4 linked regions of the Homo sapiens genome follow. The protein of the gene in region 1 interacts with the protein of each later gene in a pairwise test. Each region holds a gene or a part of one and is shown on either strand. Other genes may lie near its edges.

The links.
Region 2: the proteins of MTERF3 (region 1) and SYNGR1 interact in binary tests that used the Homo sapiens proteins (3 or more experiments, as listed by UniProt).
Region 3: the proteins of MTERF3 (region 1) and SLC50A1 interact in binary tests that used the Homo sapiens proteins (3 or more experiments, as listed by UniProt).
Region 4: the proteins of MTERF3 (region 1) and ZDHHC21 interact in binary tests that used the Homo sapiens proteins (3 or more experiments, as listed by UniProt).

What each region holds. Positions count from the first base shown.
Region 1 is NC_000008.11:96,244,579-96,251,625, reverse strand, and holds part of MTERF3 (transcription termination factor 3, mitochondrial isoform 1 precursor), read left to right. Parts: intron 1-530; coding exon 531-720; intron 721-5,171; coding exon 5,172-5,319; intron 5,320-5,694; coding exon 5,695-5,766; intron 5,767-7,047.
Region 2 is NC_000022.11:39,345,939-39,352,996, forward strand, and holds the start of SYNGR1 (synaptogyrin-1), read left to right. Parts: upstream 1-4,052; 5' UTR 4,053-4,072; coding exon 4,073-4,171; intron 4,172-7,058. UniProt on the Homo sapiens protein: May play a role in regulated exocytosis. Modulates the localization of synaptophysin/SYP into synaptic-like microvesicles and may therefore play a role in synaptic-like microvesicle formation and/or maturation.
Region 3 is NC_000001.11:155,130,905-155,138,851, reverse strand, and holds the start of SLC50A1 (sugar transporter SWEET1), read right to left. Parts: upstream 3,001-7,947; 5' UTR 2,941-3,000; coding exon 2,861-2,940; intron 2,554-2,860; coding exon 2,476-2,553; coding exon of another isoform or gene 2,456-2,475; intron 2,025-2,455; coding exon 1,901-2,024; intron 1,292-1,900; coding exon 1,130-1,291; intron 874-1,129; coding exon 754-873; intron 691-753; coding exon of another isoform or gene 679-690; exon of another isoform or gene 673-678; coding exon 571-672; 3' UTR 1-570. Other genes in the region: EFNA1 (ephrin-A1 isoform a precursor), read right to left, coding at 4,785-4,897, 5,072-5,122, 5,284-5,349, 7,218-7,513. UniProt on the Homo sapiens protein: Mediates sugar transport across membranes. May stimulate V(D)J recombination by the activation of RAG1.
Region 4 is NC_000009.12:14,610,558-14,613,466, reverse strand, and holds the end of ZDHHC21 (palmitoyltransferase ZDHHC21), read left to right. Parts: 3' UTR 1-2,396; downstream 2,397-2,909. UniProt on the Homo sapiens protein: Palmitoyltransferase that catalyzes the addition of palmitate onto various protein substrates. Palmitoylates sex steroid hormone receptors, including ESR1, PGR and AR, thereby regulating their targeting to the plasma membrane.

The sequences.
Region 1 (7,047 bases):
AGGGACGTGTCTCCGTGCTAAAGACCTAGAGATTACAACGATGAGTAAGGCACAGGGTCATTTTTATTCCCCCTATGATGGGAATCATAAACATATTTTTTAAATAATGCTTATAACTAAGGAAAAATAAAATCTTCAAAGAAGGTAACATTTTATTCATATTGTTTGTTACCCTGCAGAATTACCAGTTACTGTGGGGTTCATCTGGGACTGACAAACATTCTGAAACAATATTCAAGAAACCTTAGACAAAGATGATGACCCTACACCAATATGACTTAGTGAATTTGTTTTGGGGGGAAATGTAGCACTAAATGCTCTATTTTCCTCTGTACTTGATTTTTAAAATAAATACTATGTTGTTTCTGCAACCAACTTAGTTTAAAAATATTTAGAAGTTTCTATTGATCTATCTCAGTGCTCCTTTGGATAGGTGTTGATCTCCATCAGTAATTTCTTGTGCTTATGTATATGAGTTTAATGGGTGAACTAAGAAGTCATCTTCAAACAGTATTTATAATTTATTATAGGCGTGGATTTGTCCAAGATAGAAAAACATCCAGAAGCAGCAAACCTCCTTCTGAGACTGGATTTTGAAAAAGACATTAAGCAAATGCTTCTGTTTCTTAAAGATGTGGGTATAGAGGATAACCAACTGGGAGCATTCCTGACAAAAAATCATGCAATTTTCTCTGAAGACCTTGAAAATCTGAAGACCAGGTAGGACTTTTAAAAGGATTCTCATATAACCTAAGAAGTGGTTATGAAGGAAATATATGTGGAAGGTATTCTTTAAATCTCTGCTGCACAAGGGTCTACTGAGATAACATGAATTTTTTTTGTTATAGACCTTCTTTGATCTAAATTAAGTATTTACAACAGTTCTTTCATTCAAGTACCCATTCTTCTTCTCCCCCTCCCCCTCCCCCCCTCCTCCTCCTCCTTCTTCTTCTTCTTCTTCTTCTTCTTCTTCTTCTTCTTCTTCTTCTTCTTCTTCTTCTTCTTCTTCTGCCTCAGCCTCCCAAGTAGCTGGGTGACTACAGGTGGCCACCATGCCTGGCTAATTTTTGTATTTTTAGGAGAGATGGGGTTTCGCCACATTGGCCAGGCTGTTCTCGAACTCCTGACCTCAAGTGATCTGCCCATCTTGGCCTCCAAAGTGCTGGGATTTTACAGGCATGAGCCACCCTGCCTGGCTCCATTATTATTTTTATGTTTTCAACTTATTACTGAGTCAGTAATTAACTCTTTCTCTTTAGAAACTGGAATACGTTTTTTTCTTAAAAAAAAAAAAAACCCATCAACAAATAGCTAACTTATCTGAGAGTGCACTTAAAGATATGATCTTTTGTGGTTTTTGTAGTTTTTGTCTGGCCAATTTTTGTTGTTAGACATTTGAGATTGTCTTGGCAAATTACTGTATAATTTGCTTAATCATTTCCGTAAGTTGGCTATTTTGGTTGTTCCTTGTTTTCTTCTTAAGGAGCACTTTTATAAACATCTCTGTACTTCATTCAACATTCAAAGAATTATTGAATTTGTGAAAATAAATACAGTGAGATATTGATCTGTGAGGTAAGAATCCTGCTAGGCATTGGGAATACCACAGAGAACAAGGCAAAACCCCTGTCCCTAAGTTAACATGTTGAATTCATCGTCGCCCCCACCTGTCATTCAACCCAGTCTGTATTCCCAGATTCACTGAATACCCTTTTGCCCAACTCAGAAATACTGGTATTAACTTGCTTTCTCTTCTTTTATCATCTACATCTAATAAATCATGAAAGCCCATCAGTTCTTCTCTTCTTATAGCTCAAATCAGTCATGACATTTCTCTGAATCTTTGCTTTGACTATTTTGCCTCAGTTCCCCATAATATCACACCAAGATTACTGCAATGGTCTCCTAATTGGTCTGCCTCTAGTCATGACCCTCCAGACTGTTCTCCACACTGATGTTGATCCTTACTACATTTCAGAGAGCTTTGCGATTCCTTAAACCATCAGTCTAATGTCTTTTCTCGGAATTAGGAAAAAAAACTAAACAAAAACCTTATTTATTAAATTGAACATTTGAGCCCTTCTATATGTGAGACACTGGCCTAAACTTTAGACATCAAAAACAGTCTTTCCCTTCATGAGAGTGATAGTCTATCACAATACAGAAGGGAGAGAGAATGATTCTAAGAAACTCATCTGACATATCCAGCTCTAGTCTTCTTGGCTGTCAGGAACACTAATTCTCTCTGCAGTCAAAAACCAGCTTGCCCTTTTTGCTCAAGATTTATTCCAAGAAAGCATGAATACCAGGAGGGTAGGGATCATTTCACACGCTGCACCATTATTGTTAATAGCACCTTTGTACATAGGAGTCGCAGAGAGGTTAAATAATTTGCCCAAGATTACACACCGTTAGTATAAGTAGCAGAGTAAGTGGTTTCAACCCCAGTTAATCAAACTCCAGGGTTCTGACTACTACACACTGTCTCTACATTTAATTCTTTGAAGGAAACTTAATAGCTTAAGTTACTTGCTCAAGCCATATATGCTCCTAACAATTGAGGAATATTCTCACGTCGGTAGCATAGTCCATTGATTCCTAAACCTGGCTGGCTATCAAATTAAGCTGTAGAACATTTTTAAAAATTACTTAGAATTTTTTAATAGGTAATGCAGCCACATGTATTCAAAAGAGTATACAGTAAAAAATACTGAATAGGCACAGGTATGAGAACCTTTATTTAAATGAACTTTGTTTCTGGTTCTGATATATGCAGCAGTCTTATTTCTATAACAGCACTGATTTCATGTACTTATTTTTTAAATAAAAAGTTATATTTAAAAAATCCTTGTAGAATTTTCAAATGAATAGTCGCATTTTAATTATTTAAATACTCTTTTTTTGGTTGGGTGGGCCTTATATCTTGATTTTTTATTGGAAAAATCATTACAATGTAGACAATAGTTTTGATAATTTTTTAATCAAATGCTGAACCTTGCTGCCAAAAAAACAAGTAATACCTCCTTTTCTCCTACTTTGTCCCTTGGCCTTTCAAGACCCACCTATCGACACAGCTACTGTTATCAGGATTTTTTGTTCAACCTTCTAGGAAGCATATATCTGTGTATACACACATGAATACAAATACATAACAATTGGTAGCATTTATACACACTATTCTGTATCCCACTATCTTACCTTCACTGTATCTTGGAGATTATTTTTTCTTGGTGCTGCCTATTCTTTTTAACTCTAGTACAGTCCATGCTGCGGATCTCGCTAGTACCTATTGATAAGCATGGAGTATGTTTCCAGTCCACTGTTAGGACAAGGCTGTAGTGACTTACCTTGTACATACTTCTGAAAAATCACACATATTGGTGTCTCTCTGTAGGACGTATTTCTAGAAGTGGAAATGCTAGGTCAAAGGGTGTGTTCATCTGTAACTTCAATAGATATTGCCAAATTGTCCTTCATAGGGGTTGTTTTCCAGTTTATACTCTCCCCAACAGTGTACAGAAGTGCCAGCTTCCCTGTTATCCTTACAGATACAGTGCTATCACACTTTGCTTTCAGTTGATTGTATAGATAAAAAGAGTACTTTATTTGTTGGTTGGAGCATCAGATGTTGAAACATGGAATGTTGTTTGGAGCATCTTTTCATATGTTGAATTTCTGTTTACATTTCCTTTTCTGTAATATATCCTTTGCTATTTTTTAATCAGGCTTTTTTCTTTTTCGGTAAACGTTCTTTTATATATGAAGAAAATTAGTTCTGTCTCTGAGACATGTTGCAGATATTTTTCCTAGATTGTCACTTGTCTTTTGACTTCATTTATAGTGGGGTGTTTTTGTTTTGTTTTGTTTTGCCATGCATTTAAAATTTTTATATACTTAAACGTATAAATATTTTAACTATTTTTAAAGGAGTAATAGTCATGTGATTATAAAGTAATATAAGTTTTGGTATATAGTATAAAAATACCATAGGCTTTAGATGTAGGCATGCCTGAGTTCACATCTTAGTTTTGTCAGTAATTAGGTGATGATCTCAGACAAGTTATTTAACTTCCCTGAATCCATGTTTCCTCATGGAAAATTCACTTGGCTCACAAGTTTTTTTGTTTTTCTGGTTAGAATTAAACAAAATAATATCCTGATATATTTTAGACATTTAGTAAAACCATCTTTTACTATGTTTTAGATTTTTTAAAAATGTTATTTTATAGTCAAACTTTCTATATTTTACTAACTTACATAGTTTGATCTTCAGAAACTTAGCAGGAAAATCTCTCAGTTGACAAAATACATATTGAAAGACTGTAGTAAAAATCATTTATAAAAATACATGCTCAGGCCAGGCATGGTCACTCAAGTGTAATCCCAGCACTTTGGGAGGCTGAGGTGGGCGGATCACTTGAAGTCAGGAGTTCGAGACTAGCCTGGTCAACATGGTGAAACCCCGTCTCTACTAAAAATACAAAAATTAGCTGGGTCTAGTGGTGTGTGCCTGTAATCCCAGCTACTTGGGAGGCTGAGGCAGGAGAGTCACTTGAACCTGGGAGGCGGAGGTTGCATTGAGCCCAGATCATGCCACTGCACTCCAGCCTGGGCAACAGAGCGGGACTCTTCCTGAAAAGAAAAGAATAGAAGAGGGGAGGGGAGGGGCTCAGTAAATATACTAACCTAAAAAATGCCTCTCTCAGTTATAACCATTATTTCCTTAATTTTCTTAATTTGTGTTATTTTCTTAATTTGTGTTTTTCTGTTCTTATCAAAAAAAAAAAAATCTTAAGCAGAAGCTATTTCATTCTTTCTTACCAAGTAATAAACCAGATTAATTGAAAAGAGAATCTAAAGGTTGGTGCAAAAGTAATCATGTTTTTGCTATTGAAAGTAATGGCAAAAACCGCAACTAATACCTATTAGTGGATTTCAGAATTATTTTCTGTTTTTAAGTATAAGTGGAAACCATCTAGAGTTGGGTGAATGCTTGTTTTGTTTTAAACGTGTTTTTGCCATTGTTACAGAATGCTTTTATTTAGTTAGTAATTTAGGGTGTGGGAGCCTTTTTAAAAACAGCTGTTACTTTGGGAAGTAGCATGAGACTCCATCTCAAAAAAAAAGAATGTAAGTGTTTATCACATGCGTATGTATTTATGTTTCTCTAGGGTGGCTTATCTGCATTCAAAAAATTTCAGTAAAGCAGATGTTGCACAGATGGTCAGAAAAGCACCATTTTTGCTGAACTTTTCAGTGGAAAGACTGGATAACAGATTGGGATTTTTTCAGAAAGAACTTGAACTTAGTGTGAAGAAGGTAAAGAAAAGGAGAGAATTTGTTTATTTCCATGTCAGGTACATTTTAATAGCTGATAGATCTCATGTTCCCAGCAGATGCCTGGCCCATGTGAATCATATAAATTCCTGGTATTTTTTGTACAAAAATGAATTATCCTGCTAGTTTAAACATAGAGCTCCATCATTTTATAATACTTAATCAAACTGGTTCCTTCAGTTTTTGTTTTCTTTTTTTCCAAACAGTATTAATCTTATCTATTCCTGGGGTTCCTATCATTTTTCTGATTGGGTCATATTTTAAGTTTTAACTTTGTATCTTAATAATGCCTTAATTTTCCAAACTAGTTAAAGATGCACGTATAGTAATACTAGATTGTTTTGTTTGCAACCACAGACTAGAGATCTGGTAGTTCGTCTCCCAAGGCTGCTAACTGGAAGTCTGGAACCCGTGAAAGAAAATATGAAGGTAGGACAACTTTAGGCTTTTTGAGAAATCAGTTTCTTTAAGTGTTAAAATCCTCTGAAGAGAACAGATTTTGCTATTGTCATGTAAAAGAAAACTAGACTTTAAAATAAGTTATTTCTAAAAAGAGAAATAGGAAATTATCTTTAACAAATGTCTAGCAAGCAGTTTGTTTCAGTTAATATTTTCACGTTGAGCAGGTATTAACCTGAGTAAATCACCTTGCAGACATTGATACCCACAATCCTAAAGCATTAGATAGGGATATAAGTGGTACCCTGAAACTGCTTCTGTTGCCCAGTGTGGGCGTCTGACGTCTTTGTTACCTGGGCAGTGTTACCAGTCTACGAAAGTACTCCTGTTGGCCAGCATGACAGTCTGTGTATGTCTCAGGGAGTTTTGGAGGCTGGATCCAAAAGACTTCTGTGAAAAGAGTAGCAGCCAGCACATTGTTCTCCTTTGCACCTGTCCCAATTGCCAGCTCTCATTCTGTCACAGAATGTACCAGACACTCTTTACTGTCCTTCCTCCAAGAGAATAAGATAAAGCCAAGAGCAGCTGACTAGTTAGTATATAAAGCTGTAGTAGTATTTGAAATATTATATAAGGGCTGTTTTCTGAGGTGAACAGTTCAGTCATTGAAGAAATCTTTTTATTGAGCTCCTGCCCAAGCGCCATGCTGAGGAGACAGCTTCTCCTCCCAAGGAGCTTACAATCTAGTGGGGGATCAAATCCAGAGTGATGGGGGCAGTTACTTGGTGGGGGCACACAGGACACTATGAAAGCAAGTAGAGGACCCGGCCTGTGTTTGGTTGTTTAGTTCCTCATCTCTGCTTGGAATGTTGACATGTCGTTTTTCAGACAACACATATGTGGGTGTACTTGGGAGCAAAAGCTCAAAAAGCATTTTGAAGATCCTGCTGCTGAAGGATCTGTTTGGTGTTGGGCCCATGCCTCTGACCTGCAGCGCTCCCATGTCACTCATTCCCTCTTGTAATTATGGTTGCCCCTTTGGTGAGCTTCATGACCATCATGGTGTAGCTCTTTCTCAGCAGAGGGGTTTGAAATTCTGGTGACCCCAGGAGCCGGAAGCTGTAATTCCTTGAAGGCACTGGCATAGCTGTCTCCAAATTTTAAAATGTTATTTTAAGTTTAAAAGAATCATGGTCAGGCGTGGTGGCTCATGCCTGTAACCCTGGCATGGGAGGCCGAGGTGGGCAGATCACTTGAGGTCAGGAGTTTGAGACCAGCCTGGCCAACATGGTGAAACCTCATCTCTACTAA
Region 2 (7,058 bases), on another chromosome or scaffold:
AGCTCACTGCAACCTCTGCCTCCTGGGTTCAAGTGATTCCCCTGTCTCAGCCTCCCGAGTAGCTGGGACTACAGGCGTATGCCACCACGCCCAGCTAATTTTTTTTTTTTTTTTTTTTGAGACGGAGTCTCACTCTTTCACCTGGGCTGGAATGCAGTGGCTCGATCTTGGCTGACTGCAACCTCCGCCTCCCAGGTTCAAGCAATTCTCCTGCCTCAGCCTCCCGAGTAGCTGGGATTACAGGCCAGGCTGGTCTTGAACTCCTGACCTCGTGATTCGCCTGCCTCAGCCTCCCAAAGTGCTGGGATTACAGGCTTAAGTCACCATGCCCGGCCACTAATTTTTTGTATTTTAGTAGAGACGGGGTTTCACCATGTTGGCCAGGATGGTCTCAATCTCCTGACCTTGTGATCCGCTCACCTTGGCCTCCCAAAGTGCTGGGATTACAGTCATGAGCCACAGCGCCCAGCTGACAAACATTTTTTATTTTATTAATAAAACATGTTTTATTAATAAAATAAATTAACAATTGTATTAATTATGTAACCATTCCCATAAACAAGATATGGAATGATTCTATCATGCCTCCAGATTTCCCCGTGCCTCTTAGTAGTAACTCTCTGCCCACCAATCCCCTGGCAACCACTGATCTTTTTTTTGTCCTTAACAGTTTTGCCTTTGCAAAAATGTCACATAAAGGGAATCCTGCAGTCTCTAGACATTTGAGTCTGGCATCTTTCACTTTGCATAATACACTTGAGGGTCACCCATATTGTTGAGTGTATCCACTGTTCATTGCTTTTTATTCCTGAGTAGTGTTTATTCCTGAGTAGTGCACAGTTTATACCCTCCCAACTTGAGGAGCATTTAGGTTGTTTCCACGTTTGGGTTATTACGAATAAAACTGCTCCAAATATTTCTGTTCAGGGTTGGGCTCGGTGGCTCATGCCTGTAATCCCAACACTTTGGGAGGCCGAGGCAGGCGGATCACCTGAGGTCAGGAGTTCAAGACCAGCCTGGCCAACATGGTGAAACCCCGTCTCTACTAAAAATACAAAAATTAGCCCGGCATGGCAGCGGGCACCTGTAATCCCAGTTACTCATGAGACTGAGGCAGGAGAATCACTTGAACCCAGGAGGCAGAGGTTGCAGTGAGCCAAGATCGCACCACTGCACTCCAGCCTGGGTGACATAGCAAGACTCCGTCTCAAAAATAAATAAATAAAGAAAGAAAAGAAATAAAACTTCTGTACAGGTTTTTCTGTGAGTAAACTTTTCACTTTTTTTTTTTTTTTTTGACACTGTCGCCCAGGCTGGAGTGCAGTGGTGCCATCTCGGCTCACCGCAACCTCCACCTTCTGGGTTCAAGTGATTATTCTCCTGCCTCAGCCTCCCGAGTAGCTGGGATTACAGGCACCCACCACCACGCCCGGCTAATTTTTTTTGTATTTTTAGTAGAGACTGGGTTTCTCCATGTTGGCCAGTCTGTTCTTGAACTCCTGACCTCAAGCAATCCACCGCCTCAGCCTCCCAAAGTGCTGGGATTACAGACGTAAACCACCGTGCCCAGCCTAGCCATATTAATAGATGTGTAGAAGTATCTCATTCTAATTTTAATTTGTACTTCTCTCTCTCTCTTTTTTTTTTCTTTTAACAGTCTCACTTGGTTGCCCAGGCTGAAGTGCATTGGTGCAATCCTGGCTCACTGCAGCCTTGAATTCCTGGGCTCAAGCAATCCTCCAGCCTCAGCTTCCCAAGCAGCTGGGGTCACAGGTACACACCACATCACACCCAGCTTGTATTTCTGACTAATGATGTTGGGCATCTTTTCTTTTCTTTCTTTCTTTCTTTTTTTTTTTTTTTTTTTTTTTTTGAGACAGAGTCTCGTTCTGTCGCCCAGGCTGGAGTGCAGTGGCGCGATCTCGGCTCACTGCAAGCTCCGCCTCCCGGGTTCACGCCATTCTCCTGCTTCAGCCTCCCGAGTAGCTGGGACTACAGCCACTACACCCGGCTAATTTTTTTTTTTTTTTTTTTGTATTTTTACTAGAGATGAGGTTTCACCGTGTTAGCCAGGATGGTCTCAATCTCCTGACCTCATGATCTGCCCGTCTCGGCCTCCCAAAGTGCTGGGATTATAGGCGTGAGCCACCGCGGATGCTGGGCATCTTTTTATGTGCTGAGTTGCCGTGTGTATATCTTCTTTGGTGAGGTGTATAACTATTCAAATCTTTTGCCCATTTTTTAAAAAGTGGGTCCTCTTATTATTATTGAGTTCGAACGTTCTTTATTTGGGATGCAAGTTCTTTAGATCTATGCTTTGCAAATATTTTCTCCCAGACTATCGTTTGTCTTTTCATACATTCTTTTAACAATGTCTTTTAAAGAACAGAAGTTCTTAATTTTGATAAAGTCCAGTTTATCAATTGTTTCTTTTATGAATCATGTTCTTCATGATTTTTTTTTTTTTTTTTTTTTTTTGAGACGGAGTCTCGCTCTGTTGCCAGGCTGGAGTGCTGTGGCGCGATCTCGGCTCACTGCAACCTCCACCTCCTGGGTTCAAGTGATTCTCCTGCCTCAGCCTCCCAAGTAGCTGGGACTACAGGAGCTCGCCACCACGCCCGGCTAATTTTTGTATTTTTAGTAGAGACCGGGTTCACCATGTTGGCCAGGATGGTCTCAATCACTTGACCTTGTGATCCATCCACCTTGGCCTCCCAAGGTGCTGGGATTACAGGCGTGAACCACTGCGCCCGGCCTTCTCTTGTGCTTTCTTCTAAAAGTTTTATATAGTCATAGTAGACACCTTATAAGTGTGCTGGATTAAATGTGAAAATGTATGTAAAGCCCTTAGCACAAGGCCTGGTAGAGACTAAACAATCAGCTGAGCCTAAGATGGACATTGACTATGTAATTTTTATAAGGAGCACCCTCAGGCCCAGCACACATTTCCTCCACACAGATGTTGTGTCCTGTCATCACAGAATGGCAGGATACCAGAGAAGCAAAAGCCTCCACCCATATCCTCATCCAACCTGCTCCTGGAACCAGTGAAGGTGACTGCAGACATAGAGAGGCCATAGAGCTACAGGGCAGCAGGAGAGCCAGCCCTGGAAGGTGGCCCTTCCCCTGCAGGGAGCACTCCTCCATCTAGCCTCCGTTTCCATGAAACCTGGAGGTCTAGCCCAAGCTGTGATGGGGTGATGGGGACTAGGCTCTGTTTACTGAGCACCTACTGTATGCTAGGCCCTTGGGTAAGGCATTGAATAAGTTAGACAACACCTGGGCCTCGGGAGCTCACAGACTAGCAGCAGAAGAGGCCATGAACAAATGATTGCGTAATTAATTGCTAGATTCAGGAAAGGGGCAACGTTCTGGGGTAGGAGGGGATGGGGAAGAGGAAGTCTCAGCCGCCGCCTCTGTGCCAGGCCCCTCCAGGCTGGGGGTGGGAGGGTGCGCGGGCACAGGGACACACATGACGTCATCGTAAGAGGCAGGGGAAGGGTGGTCCTGGGAGGTGGGGGCTGCTCTGGAGGGCTGTAAGAGAGGGTCATTCACTCGTGGTTCATTCATTCGAGAAATATTCATGCGGCGCCTACTGCGTACCAAGCACCCTCTAAGAAGGACGAACACAGCTCCTGCCCTCTCATTATATTTGGGGCCGACAAAGTGGCAGGAAACAGCCAAACAAATCAAGCGTGAAGATGGTTTCAGCAGAGCCGACGGCTCAGAGGGGCTGCGACCGGGGCAGGGGACCGGGGATGCGGGGCAGGGACACGGCCCACACTTGCTGTGCACGCACCGCCCTCCCCCAAACACTTTGCAAAGAGGTCACCGCACTGGCTGCGAGCGCGCCCTGAGCCCCGGGCCGCAGCACGCGCGCCCCCGCGCCCGAGGTCGCGCGCTGCCCAGCCCCCCGCCCGCGCCCCGCGAGCTGCGCCCGCCGCGCACGACGCCCCCTCGCGGGAGCCCTGGGCCGCCGGCCGCGCGCGCAGGGGAGGGGGCGGGGGCGCCGCGCACGCGCACGGGCCGGCGGCGCGCGCCGAGCGGGGGGCACCGCGCGGGTGCAGCCACGATGGAAGGGGGTGCGTACGGAGCGGGCAAAGCCGGGGGCGCCTTCGACCCCTACACCCTGGTCCGGCAGCCGCACACCATCCTGCGCGTCGTGTCTTGGGTAAGGACGGACTGGCCGACGGCTCTGCCAGGCCGGGGTGGTGGGGGTGTGAGCAAAGGCGGCGCGCCCGGACCGACCCCGACCCCGACCCCAACGGGCCCCCGGCGGCGGCGCGGCGGCGGGCGAGGAGCTGTCCTGCCTGCGGGGCCCGCTGCCGCCGCTCCTCCTTCCCGGGCCCGGGGCGGGCGGGATCCCTGGTGCTCGCGGGAGACGCCGCTCCGGCTCCCGGAGCCCTGGTTTCCTGGGGCCCCCGGTTCGTGCGCCCCCCTTCCCGCCCCGATTGCTGTGACCTCCAGGCCGCGGCTATGCCGCGAAAGGCTCGGATTGTGCGCGGCCGCCAGGGCGGACTGGGGACCGTGGGGACGGAGCCAGGGTTTAAGGTGGCCTTTTTTGGGGGGTGGATCAGGGCGTGGACCATCTCGGTGGGGTGCATGCCGCGCCTGCGATGGACGTTGGAGGAGGAGAGGGCCGGGAACCGGGTTCGTATTGCCTAGCCCGGCCCGTGTGGAGCGATGAGTCGGGAACTGAGTACCTCTCTTCCACCCGGGAACTGCCTCTCCTTCTCTGCGTGACCTTGGGCTGGGAGCCACCCAGGAAATGTTCTCGAGAAATGAGGACTTCAATTCCGAGGTGGGGAGTGTCATCTCCTCTCTCATGCCTCAGTTTCCCAATTTATAGACAAGGTGGGCGGAGCCTTCTTGAGGCCCCCTTGGGCTCTGACATTTCATGAACCGGTAACACCCCTCCCACTCAGCATGCACCTGGATGCCCAAGGCGGGTGTCTGGGAGAAAGGTCTGCTCCCACAGTGAAGAGGCCAGGGTGGCCTCCAGCCTAGCTGGGGGGCAGGGTCCTCAGTGCAGAGGGCTGAGTGGGCTCTTGTTCAGACGGGTGGTCAGGGAGAGGATGGGTCAGAGACAGTGAGCACAGAGGGAGGGGTTCAGGTGCCTTGAGTGGCACCTCATGGAAAGAAGCCCTGCTGGGGTCTGGAGAGGGGGTTTCTGGGGCTCCCTGGGTTTGGCTGGCTGTATCCCAGAAACTCCCACTCGAGGTTCTGGCCTCTGCAGGCCTGGGGCCCGTTCCTTGTGGGCTTAGACTAGGAATGGGCTAGACTGTCAGGGACCCCAGGGGCTACCCCAAGGCCAGCTGTGACCTCAGGGTGCCCAAGCTTCCTCCTTTCCTTGGTTTTCAGGGTCTGGTTGGTAGGATGGCTTGGGTATGTATCCCTGGTCTGCGAAGGATGACCCCATTTAAAGCCTTTTCTTCTCAAATGCCGTCAGATGGGAGCTGTTTGAGGGCAGGAAAGCCCAGTTCCTTTAACCCTTGTGTCGGTGCCTGCACAGAGCCGGGCACCCCAGCACATCTGTGTTTGTGGCTCTGAATTCATTTATCTGTGCCAGTCTCCTGCTCCCCAGATGCCCCAACAGACCCTTGCCAAAGGTGGGAGCCCTGGGGGGCACCTGCCGGATCAGGCGGGTGGGCTGCGTTCACTGCTTTAGTCTGCCCACCCCTGGGCCTCTGGCCTGGAAGGGCGAAGCCACTGGCTTTGTGAGGGGGCTTGTCTGCTTGGGTCATTTCTGCCTCTGATGCCTTCATTTAGCAAAGCTTTATTGAATCTGCTGGGCCCCAAGGGAAGGCAGCGTGACTCAGAAGCAGCCCTTGTTCTCGGGAAGCCACAGTCCCACTGGGGAGTGAGCCAGGTGCCCCCAGGCAGAGGCCGCAAGAGCCAGGAGAGGGGTCTCCCTGCTGTGGAATCAAATTTCATGGTGAAGGTGATGTCAGATTGGGCCTGGTGGGATGAGGGTTTATACATATGCACATCCAGGGGAGAGGACGTGGAAAGCAGGAGGAAGGATCAGCCCCTCTGAGCACCCATGGGGTGCAAGACCACACACAGCTACCTAGCTGGTTCCCCAACACTAGAGGAAGCTGCGGCTCAGCGAGCGAGGCCAAGTGCCTGGCCCAAAGTCACTAAGCATGTAAGTGGCAGACGAGCATTTGAGCCTAGGTCTTCCTGTCTCCAAAGAGTAGTTCTCCCCCTGGGGCAGGGAAGAATCCAGAATCCTGGAATGTCAGGATTGGAAAGGACACAAAGGTCACCTGGACCAACCAATGCTCAAACGACCCCACAGCCTCCCAGTCCTGCTCACACACGTGGATACAAGGCGCTCACTACCTTTGTCGAACCAAGAGGTGTCTGATACAGGCTGATTGACACCTTTAAAAGTAGCTTTTTTTCCTGATCAGAGTAATACCTGCCAATTATTGGAAAGTATAAAAATCACATGTGATGGTTGCACGGTAGGAATGTACTTAACACCACTGAAATGGTGAAGATGGTAAATTGTATGTTACGTGTGTTTTACCACAACAGAAAAAGTTTGGTGGGGGGTGGTAATCATGTGATACCACCACTTAGGGAGGGCTGCAGTGAATAGGGTGCTGTCTCCTTCTGGTCTTTTCGAAACTGTGTGGCGTGCTGAGCCATTTAAACACATCAGGAGCTGCGGGGGATGCAGCTGGCGCCTGCTCTTGGCCCTCACACCACAGGGCAGAGCAAGTGAAGCTGAGCTCCAGGACCAGGGTGACCCGTTTATCCTGGTGTGCTGGAACTTCCTGCCTTTAGCATTCTGAGAGGCCCTTAGTCCAGACAAACAGGGACAATTTGTCACCCTGTCCAGGACTCCTGGACAACCCAGACCCCTACCACAGCCCTGGAGGGGCCCTAACAGCATGTGCACATGAACCTGTGATTGTTTTTTTTCTTTTTTTGAGATGGAGTCTTGCTCTGTTGCCCAGGCTGGAGTACAATGGTGCCATCTCGGCTCATTGCAACCTCCGCCTCCCAGGTTCAAGCAACTCTACTGCCTCGGCCTCCCAAGTAGCTGG
Region 3 (7,947 bases), on another chromosome or scaffold:
CAGGGGTGGGGAACACTTTATTTTAAGGCATATTCATATCAGCATATAAGGCATATTCATATCACAATGGCACGATCTCAGCTCACTGCAACCTCCACCTCCTGGGTTCAAGCAATTCTCCTGCCTCAGCCTCCCAAGTATCTGGGATTACAGGCATGTGCCATCATGCCTGGCTAATTTTGTATTTTTAGTAGAGATGGGGTTTCACCATGTTAGTCAGGTTGGTCTTGAACTCCTGACCTCAGGCGATCCGCCCACCTTGGCCTCCCAAAGTGCTGGGATTACAGGCGTGAGCCACCGCGCCCGGCCTTTTAAGGCATATTCTAAAGATTGCACCCCAACCTCCAAAATTAAAAAAAAAAATCTCTAAAAAATAAAAAGTGATTTCATCTCCTAGGCCCCAATCAATCATCTAAGTAAAGCTTTTTCTTTGGTCCTTTTATCCTCAAAGTCATCTCTTGTTCCCACAACCCACTGCACCTGGGAAGCTGGACAGCAGGCCCAGCTGAAACAAGGAGGTCTCTTTGGTTCAGGTTGGCACTAAGGTGCCCAGTGGTCAGATGAGCAGCCTCAGGTTTGCAGGAGCCAGTAGTTCCTGTCTTGCTCCTGGGGGTACTTCCAGAAAAGCCAGAAGCGGATAAAGCTGGTGACGATTCCTGGAAAGTTGGACACCTGAAATCACAAGAACTGCTATGAGGAGAGGAGCCAGTTTTCCATCTTGCACCCCTGTCACCCCATCCCAGTTGTGCTTACCATGATATAGGGATCTCTGAGTCGAAACCCATAGAGGCACCAGGAGGCAGAGGTGAGAAGGGTAGCAATGGTGAGTGGGTAGGAGAGACATTGGGTTGATTTAGTTTGAATCACCTTAGCCTGTGGGAAAGAATGGAAGACTCTCTTGGCCCAAGCACATCGTAAAGCTTCACTTGCCTAAGAATTTCCTCAAGAAAAAGGTCAGACACCCTCCCTGATCTGTCACCCAACCTTTCCTGCCTCCCACTCGCCCACTTCTACTGCCTTGTCTTCTTCCAGGGTTTGGATCTCCCCTTCCTCGGGACTGTAAGCCATAGTATTTGGCTATGAGAGCCTGACTCTTATCTCTCCTACCTCCTTGGACACCCCCACTCACCAAGTCAGCCAGTGGTGAGAGGTACATGCTGATGGTGAAGACACTGCAGAAGAGGCCCAACTGCTGAAGCCGGGCCTCAGGGTTGGGTACCAGGAGCCAAAAGTAGCCATAACCCAGGAGAAGGACCCCTAGCAGGGTTGCAGTCTGTAGGAGCACAACACGCTGCAGGGGAGAGAGTACCCTTACTTCCAGATGTGCACTCTGACTTCCCTGCTAGAGTTAATTCATCCTGCCTTCTCCAGTGCTCCAATGGGGAAGCCAAGCTGTCTAGGCCTCCAGCACTGCACTGTCACAGCTTCTTTCCCACCACCAACTTGATAGGAAAGTCTTATCCACCCACAACACTGGAGACTTCTGGGGGAGATAAATATGTGTTTTTTTCTGTGTGCTTGGCACACACAGTAGGAGCTTCATAAATGCTTGTGTGATTTAGCAGGGACGCAGAGCTAATCATCTCATTCTCACCCACAGGCCCTGGCTCTGAAAGAAATATCAGAGACAAAAGCCCTTTCCCCTTAGCTTGTTGGCTGAAGCCCAGGGCAGGCAGCATAGGCATCTCAGGCTAGGCAGAGCTACCAGCCTTGCCTAAATGGGGGCAATGTGTTCATCTCAGAAGGCTGGCTTCATAGAGGAAGGGGACCTGCAAGGCTGGAGAGGCCTTCCTGGAAAAGGTGGCAGTGCCAGCTGTTACAGTCTTCTAGGAAATAGTGTTTGCCCTGCCAGCAAGGCAGGGCGTGCAGCAGATAGGTGGGTCCAAGGGAGGGCCTCTACCTTCCGAGGGCAGTAATGCAGATATGCCAAGATATACAGGGTCTGAAGCGCAGCACCCACTGTGTTGACGACGATGAGGATCCCGTCTCCCTTCAAAGCCCCATAACTCAGCCAGCCCAGGTTGCTGCAGGGTGGAGGGGATGGACATGGCTCAAAGGGTTCAGTGTGAGAGGAGGACCCAAAGGGTCTTTCACTCTTTTTTTTTTTTTGAGACGTAGTCTCGCTCTGTCGCCCAGGCTGGAGTGCGGTGGCACGATCTCGGCTCACTGCAAGCTCCGCCTCCTGGGTTCACGCCATTCTCCTGCCTCAGCCTCCCGAGTAGCTGGGACTACAGGCGCCCGGCACCACGCCCGGCTAATTTTTTGTATTTTTAGTAGAGACGGGGTTTCACCGTGTTAGCCAGGATGGTCTGGATCTCCTGACCTCGTGATCCGCCCGTCTCGGCCTCCCAAAGTGCAGGGATTACAGGCGTGAGCCACCGCGCCCGGCCAAACCTCTTTCACTCTTGCTCCTCCTGCCCCGCCCCCACCTCCCTCTGGTAGCCTTTCCCACTACCGCAGCCGTCGGCCCCTCACTTGACTTCCGTGGTGAGAAAGGGCAGGAACTGGACGTTGTCCACACTCCGGGTCATTCGCATGTGCCTGAGGTCCGAGCTGTAATGGGGCCCCGAAGGGAGGGGTGGGGGTGGGAAGGGAGAAGCAGAGTGCTAGAGGGGGATGCCCAATGCCTGTCATCCTTTCCGGACCACCGCAGACCCCGCCCCCTCTCCCCCCCGCCAGCTATCCTGCCTTCTCCTTCAGGCCTAGTGACCAGCCTCGCCCTTGTACCCCGGTCCCCTCGACCCGATCCCACTTTGATCCCGGTTCCGGACGAGCCAGGTGCTGTGGCCACGTCTCTGTCCCCTCTCTCTCCTTTCCTGACTGCCTAGTCCTCCCCAACCCAGCCCGGCCGCACTCTCACAGGCCGGCGGAGAACATGCCAAGGGTGAAGACCACGCATGCTCCGTAAATGAGCGAGTCCAGAAAGCCGCCCGCCTCCATTACGACTAGAGTCGGATCCCGCGCCCAGCGCCCGCCGCGAGCCTGCGGTTGCCGGGACCTACTGCAGCCCAGACCTGCGGCTCTGGAGCCCCGCCCCGCGCACTCGGCTCCGCCCCCGCACGCTCGGGCCGTCCCTCCGGAAACTGCGCCGAAGCCCCACCCTCCCTCCGACGCCGAACCGGAACTCGCGCCCCTCTCCTCCGAGCGCCTTCCCAGTACCCTGGTCCAGACCTCTTCCATGTCCCGGTCAGTCCCCTTCCTAGGGCTCCGCGGGTGTGTCCCCGATACCTGCCGCTGCTCACACTCTGCCTACCCCTTGGATCATCTAGACGCCCCCAGTCTCAACGCTCGTGTTCCCACAGGCCTGTGCGCCTTCGGCGGTGGACCTCCAAACAAAAGCTTGCTAGTTTAACAAGACTTCAGCACGCTTTCCATCCAGAGCTCCACATCAGAACCTCAGTTGCCCAGGGTTTGGGAAGTTTTTTTCTGGAGTGTGCTGCCGAAGCTTTTTCTCAAAATAACACATTACCAGGAATCACCAAGCCTTCCTCTTTTGCCCTCCCTCTCGGGTCAACTTTACATGACGTGGCCAATCCACTGACGCCTCTATCACTGACCCCCGGTCCAACCCACTTGTTACTGGGAACTTTCCCTCCCAGCCTCCCACACGTCTCTGCTAGTGTGGCTGTGGGGCGGGGCCGCATGCCTCAGCTGGCGTTCCCAGCTTCCCTGACTCACCGAAACAGCGTGAGTACCTGAATGGTAGTATGCCAAAGCCCTGCGGTGACGGAGTGGGAGTGGGGTAGAGGTCGGATAGGAAGAACTTCCAGAGTGGAGTGCAGCTCAGAACCCGAGAGACAGCTGTCAGGAGCACTCCGGTCCTGGACAGCCCTCAGAGGAGGAAACATCCCACCCTTTTGGCCTCGTGAGGGGCACACATTCTTTGGAGAGAAAGAAATTCAAACCCAGTTGCTACTGTTGTAGCACAGAGAGCCTCGCACTTAGCAGGGACTCAATGGTCATATGTTTTAATATGGAGTGGCAGAAAAGCATGTCCGAAAAAACACATTGCTTTATTTTGAGACAAAGAACATTGTATAAAAAAACTCCAGTTGTAGAAATCAGGACAGACACACAGCAACTTATATACAGATACTATACACGTGGGCCCTGCCCTTTAGGCTACACTCTAGGCAGAATGTACACATGGGCACTGCCCTTACAGCTACACTCTAAGAACAGGTTGGCACAGCCCCCCTGCTGGCACAGCTCTGGGGAGTGCTGCCCCAGGATGGGAGAGAATGCAGTACCTGGCTACAAACTTCTCTGTGGCAGCTCCACAGATGAGGTCTTGCTGGGAGATGCTGGGTCAGCCCAAGCATGCTGCCTCTCCTGTACCTGGCTTCCAAGCAAGAAACTGTTTCTTGCTTTTCCTTCAGTCAGTTCATCTGGGCATCCTGGCTCTCTCCTGGAGGGGGCATCTTTGACAAGCTTTGCCCATCCACGTGGCCCCTTCCAGCTCAGCTCCCACTGTGCCTTAAGGGACCATGCCTGCACAGCTTGTTTCTTTGGCTTAAAGGCAGGAATGGTGGGAAAGGACTGTCTCCACTTCTTTCTCCATCCCTCCGAGGTGAAGGTGGGGATGGCACTGTCGGGCTGGTTGGCCTCCTTCCGGTTGAAAACCTTAATACTGACCCGTTTTGAGGCTGCTAGGTGATAGCTTATGCCTGTGGTGGGAGTGGTTCCCAGGGCTGGGGGCTCTGAAAGTGGCCCCAAGACAGGTTTGGAGTGCCTGTCCCTCTCTTCAGCCTGTCCCTCTTTAAGGCCAGGTGTGGCATACACCTTCACGGGGTTTGCAGCAGCAGAAGTGGAAGGAGCAGCACAGTCCAGGCAAGTGGGAAGAGGCGTGGGGCAGCACTGTGACCGATGCTATGTAGAACCCGCACCTCTGGGTCATCTGCAAGGTGAGAGGGCAAAGGCCACCAGTGTGAGTGGCTCCACTATTTGTACTGGCTCTCAGCCCAACAGGATTCCCTCAGCCTCAGCCTGGTAAAGGAGCCACCTCCTGTACCCAACCTCTTCAAGCAGACCCCTTCCTGTGCCCCAGGCCCAGTTTGCTCCAGCTACCCACCTGCTGCAAGTCTCTTCTCCTGTGGATTGTCATGGGCCTGAGGACTGTGAGCTGAAAGACAAGAGTGGTAGTAGATCAGGTACTGTATCAAAGAGGCAGAGGGCTGTAAGTATGAGTGGGCTGGGCTGCAAGACTTCTATACCATCCTAGATCACTAGACCGCACCCAGCATAGAGATGGAGGAAGGAGGCCCACAGGGCTCTGACACTCACTGATTTTGCCACTGACAGTCACCTTCAACCTCAAGCAGCGGTCTTCATGCTGGTGGATGGGTTTGGCTGCAAGATAAGCCCACAGGGGTTAAATAAGAAACCTTTGCTGGAAGAAAATGTAAGTCCAAATGCCCCTCGCCCTGCTTTCTCAGCTCCCTACTCAATTTCATTCTTCTCTTCCCTCTAACCTTGATTCCTACCCTCCTTAGTTTTTGCTAACTTCCTGCCCAATGTTCAGCCCAGCCTCTCATTCTTTGGAAATAACCCTCAGCATAGACACTGCCCCTCCCCACATTTCATCCTTCATTCCTCCGAGTCTGAATATGTTCCTCTTGCCTGGGCCACTTAATACTACTCCTAGGCCAGGCGCGGTGGCTCACACATGTAATCCCAGCACTTTGAGAGGCCGAGGTGGGCGGATCACGAGGTCAGGAGTTCGAGACCAGCCTGGCCAATATGGTGAAACCCCGTCTCTACTAAAAATACAAAAATTAGCCGGGCATGGTGGCACATGCCTGTAGTCCCAGCTACTCGGGAGGCTGAGGCAGAAGAATCAATTGAACCCGGGAGGTGGAGGTTGCAGCAAGTCGAGATCGTGCCACTGCACTCCAGTCTGGGCGACAGAGCGAGACTCTGTCTCAGAAAAAAAACAAAAAAACAAAAACTACTCCTGCCTAGCCCCCACCGACAGAGTCCTAGATCCATCTTATACAAAGCTGATCTCATAACTTTCTTTTTGAAACGGAGTCTCCCTCTGTCACCCAGGCTGGAGTACAATGGTGTGATCTCGGCTCACTGTAACCTCACACCTCCTGGGTTCAAGCGATCCTCCTGCCTCAGCCTATTGAGTAGCTGGGACTACAGAAGTGCGCCACCACACTCGGCTAATTTTTGTATTTTTTTAGTAGAGTTGGGGTTTCACCATGTTGGCCAGGCTGGTCTTGAACTCCTGACCCTAGGTGATCCACCCACCTCGGCCTCCCAAAGTGCTGGATGATCTCATAACTTTTAAAATCCATCAGGCCATGCGCGGTGGTTCATGCCTATAATCCCAGCACTTTGGGAGGCTGAGGCGGGCAGATCACTTGAGGTCAGGAGTTCGAGACCAGTCTGACCAACATGGTGAAACCCCATCTCTACTAAAAATACAAAATTAGCTGGGCGTGGTGGCAGGTGCCTGTAATCCCAGCTATTTGGGAGGTTGAGGCAGGAGAATTGCTTGAATCCGAGAGGTAGAGGTTGCAGTGAGCAGAGATCACACCACTGCACTCCAGCCTGGGCGACAAGAGTGAAACTCCATCTCAAGAGTAATAATAATAATAAAATAAAATAAAATAAAACCCATCAGTGGCGAGAGCCCTCAGGATAAAGTCCAAACTCCTTATCACCTTTTAGTTCCCCCATGGTCTGTTCTGTCCACCTCTCCAGGCTCACATCTCCTCACTTCCTGTGTCCCTCCAACTCCAGCCAGGCTGAGCCACAGGAAGTTCCCTGAAGATGTCATGCTCCCTTTGTACGTGTGCCTTCATGCCTGGCCAGCTCCTCTGCTTGTCCTGAGCTCTGGGACCATCTTCCCCACTGAGCCTTCTCTGAGCCCCATAGCCTGGCAGGTGCCCAGGTCATTTTCCCAAGGCCCCTGTGTTCATGTCTACTGTAGCACACTGTTCTAAGGGTCTCTTAACCTATGTGTGTTTCTTCCCAGCTTCCTTGAGGACAGGGGCTCTGTAGTGTTTTATTTATCTTTGTGCTCATAGCGCTAAACAGAGTGCCCAGCACATAGTAGAAGCTCACTCACATTGGGATGTAGATGAATGAAAATAGAATTCAAGATCGGAAGGGGCCCTCTGCTGCTGGACTCTACACCAAGCATGTACCCAAGCATGTATGTAATGGCAAAAAAGAAACACAGACACTGTCCCCTCACAGGCACTCACAGATGTAGTAGTAGCTGTGTCCTTCTTTGAACTCCTTGCCCAGGGTGAAAGGTGTGAAGCGCTGGAACTTCTCAGACAGCTTCTCCGGGCCATGCTTGGCACTGGGCCGGTTGCACTGCCAGCGGACTTGGTCCTTGGACTGGGGCTGGCACAGCTGGTACTCCTCATGCTCCACCAGGTACAGTATGTACTGCTCCATGGCAGCGTCTGCCACAGAGTGATCTTCATAGTGCGGACAGATGATGTCCACGTAGTCATTCAGCTGCACATGTATGGTGTAGTCCTCATTCCGGAACCTGGGGACACACACAGGGGGAAGAAGCAGGTGGTCATTCAGAAGCCAGGCCAGATCCTTGGGCCTCTGAATGTTTACATGACCTCTCACATTTCACACTGGACCCCAAGAGATTTTTCCGAAGTTTCAACTCCCAATATGTACTGATCTTGATGTCTTACATTTCTCTCTGCCATCTCTAAACATTCCCCTGCACCATCACTGTCTCCTGTTGGTCCTTCAAATAGCATTCACTCAGTATCTTTCGGGTACCAAAGCATTTTCCATAACCCCCCTGATACTTACCTGATATTTAGATGGGCTTCTACCTATTTCTGTAGCTCACTTATCATTCTCTTCTACCCATAAATATTTCCCCAAATCTGTTCTACCAGTTGCTCCTTTTAAATGCTGTTAGGCCTCAATCTGAGACCCCCACAGGTCCATTCTGTAATC
Region 4 (2,909 bases), on another chromosome or scaffold:
CTTACCTGCGTATTGCAAGCTATATATTCTTGCCAGTATACATTGGATGATATTTTAACCTACTGGTGCCTGAAGTTCGTGTTTTATAACCTCAACAACTATAAAACATCCTGGTGCTATTCACTTTAGCATTGAGTGACATTTTTAATTCCTGTACCAAAGAGTTAATTTTCTTTTTGGTTGACTGAGTTTTCTTCTCACATCGTTGTGTATTTATAAAGTAGAATTTAATGTTACTAAGAACAGTTTGATTAACAGATCTTATTTTTTGCATGCTGCTCTGGCAATTTAATGGATTTTAAATGTTTCTCATTTGGATTTTTTTTTAGGTAGGCATGTATGGATTTTAATTTTGTATTTTAATATAGCTTGGCTACTTTAAAAGGTAGTTTGATAGGCTGAAATTACAAAAGATAATTGAAGCACTTTTCACAAGTTGTTTTATTTCTGCAACAATGAATAAAAAGGTAAGAACTCTAATTTATATAAATGAACTATATAGCTTATTGGGCACTTTAGTGAATACTGAAACAAAATACTAAGATGAAGAGTTAAGGTTCGTTCTCATTACAAATCGAGTTCAGCGTGTGTGTGTGTGTGTGTGTGTGTGTGTGTGTGTGTGTAATCTTTAGTGGCTTTAAAGAATAATATTGCCATTTGTCTACTTTGCAAATAAAGATAACAGAACACCTTTAAAATATATGTATGTGTACATATGTGTGTGTAGATATATAGAGAGAGAGATACGGAGAGACAGACAGACAGAGAGAGAGACAGAGAGAGAGATGCTTTCCCAAGAGGAAATGCATATGTACCTTGATTTAAGCAAAACTGATAACAGAAAATTGAACTTAATGAAAGAAAAAAGTCTGGATATGGTTACTCACTTTACATAGAGTAAGATTTTTAAAACTAATTTTGCTTAGTAGTTAATTTTACAAAAATGAAGAGAAACACCCTTTAAGTGTACTCGTAATTTAAAACACCTTTGAAATGTAATTGTCCAAATGTAATGCTGCTATGTATATTATTTGGGTTCCAGATTTTTCCCTTTAAAATTCTCAAAACACTCAGTGTCCTTACAACTGCAGCTAAAATGGTTAATCATTCTGGCAAGAAGGTGACAGTGTGTATATTGGAAAGGCAGACATTCACATTTGAAAATATTTTGCATTATTGTTAGCTAAAATCAACCTCTCCTTGAATGTAGATACAATATATGGTTTTGCAGTCAATTCTGAATGGAAAAAAAGAATCAAGTCTGAAATTTATGTGAAATGTGGCTTCAGATCATTTGAACGATATGTAGAAATCTAGATGAACATATCATTAGAGGTGAAAGCAAAATTTGAAAGCCTAATGAGATGAAGCAACATTATCTCTCTCTAATCTGCCAACAATATTCCCTAGATTGTGTTGCCACTGTATTGATTCTGAGTAATTTGGCTTGTTTATGCGTGATTTAAATGCATGTGGCTGAATGCAGTAATTTTTCAAGTTATTGAGTAGTAGAGAATTCACCACTATTCACTGTCTCCCAGAGATGAACATATAAAAGAAAAAAAATTCTACTTCATATATGTAAGAATAAAGCAACTAAATGATACAAAAGTAAAAACTTCCACCAGAATCAGAGATATTCCGACAAGTGAATTGTGAGTCTAACACGGGAGGACAAAGCTAGGCTCTTGCAAGGACAGAGCACACGTGGATCATGCTGTATGAGCTCACTTTGTGTCCCTGGAATTAGTGTTTTTTTGTGTGTGATCTAACTGGCAAGTTTAATGAATAGCCAAAATCTATGTTATTCTTGAGGCTCCTAAAATTATGTGTGAACCCCAAGTTCTGTCTAGTATTATATCCCTAAAATGCTTTTAATAGTGGTATGTTACAAGTGGCATAAGAAGATCCTGTTTTTAAATTTGTCAGGCATTTTATTATTCAGTACATAATATGTATAGATCTGAGTGCTGTTTTCCTTGCATTGTCTATTATTTTTACCTTGTCTTTCCCCTAAGAGAATTTGAAGAAAATCTTCACCAATATTTCTAGTGTTGATGGTAATTAGGAAAATAGTAGTTGAGAGATGTAAGAATAGTTTGAGAAGAGTGAGTAAAATGGGTGAAATGACAAGTGGGAACCATGTAGCTGAGATGTATTTGTTTAGATGAAAAGTCTACACTGGTTCTTAATGTGAAAATCAAACCATGTATCTACCTTAAGAACAATGTTGTTGTTTTTAATTTATTGTAGCGATTTAGTTTTTTTCACGTAATATTTCTATTTTCTTTGCAGATTGTTTTTAATTTAAATTGTGGAATTTTTACTTCTCAAAATGTATTAAGTACTGTATTTTTTGAAATCTTATTTTTAAATAAATATTTTTTAAAAACGTAGGACTGTTTTTATCCTCTTACCTTTCTTACTTAGGAAAATTAACCCAAATTCTAGATTTCAGCACTACCAATGTAATAGGTCACTTTTAAAAATTTTATACAATGTGGATAATTATTCATGATTACTAGCCTTAGGATATTGTTCTGCCATAATCACAAAATTCATTAAGTATTCAAAAAGAACTAGGTGTACATACTAGGGCTGAAATTGACAAACGCAGTATTTCTAGTTAGGCATGTTTATCTTAGAGATGACGCAGATGGCTGGATTCAGTCACCCAATTTATTTAACATTTATTGTGGCAGACACTATTTTATAGCAGTATTTTTTCTTGAGGGGAATAATTTACTTACAGTAAAATGCAGAAACTTTAAGTTTACACCTAGGCACTATTTTAGATCTGGCAATATTGAATTAAAGCCTGTGCTCCTATGAAGTTGGCCAAAAAAAATCATCAGCTCTGAAAAGACAAATCAATCAGCAGGTCTTAAAGACAGTGAGTTAGTAGAAAC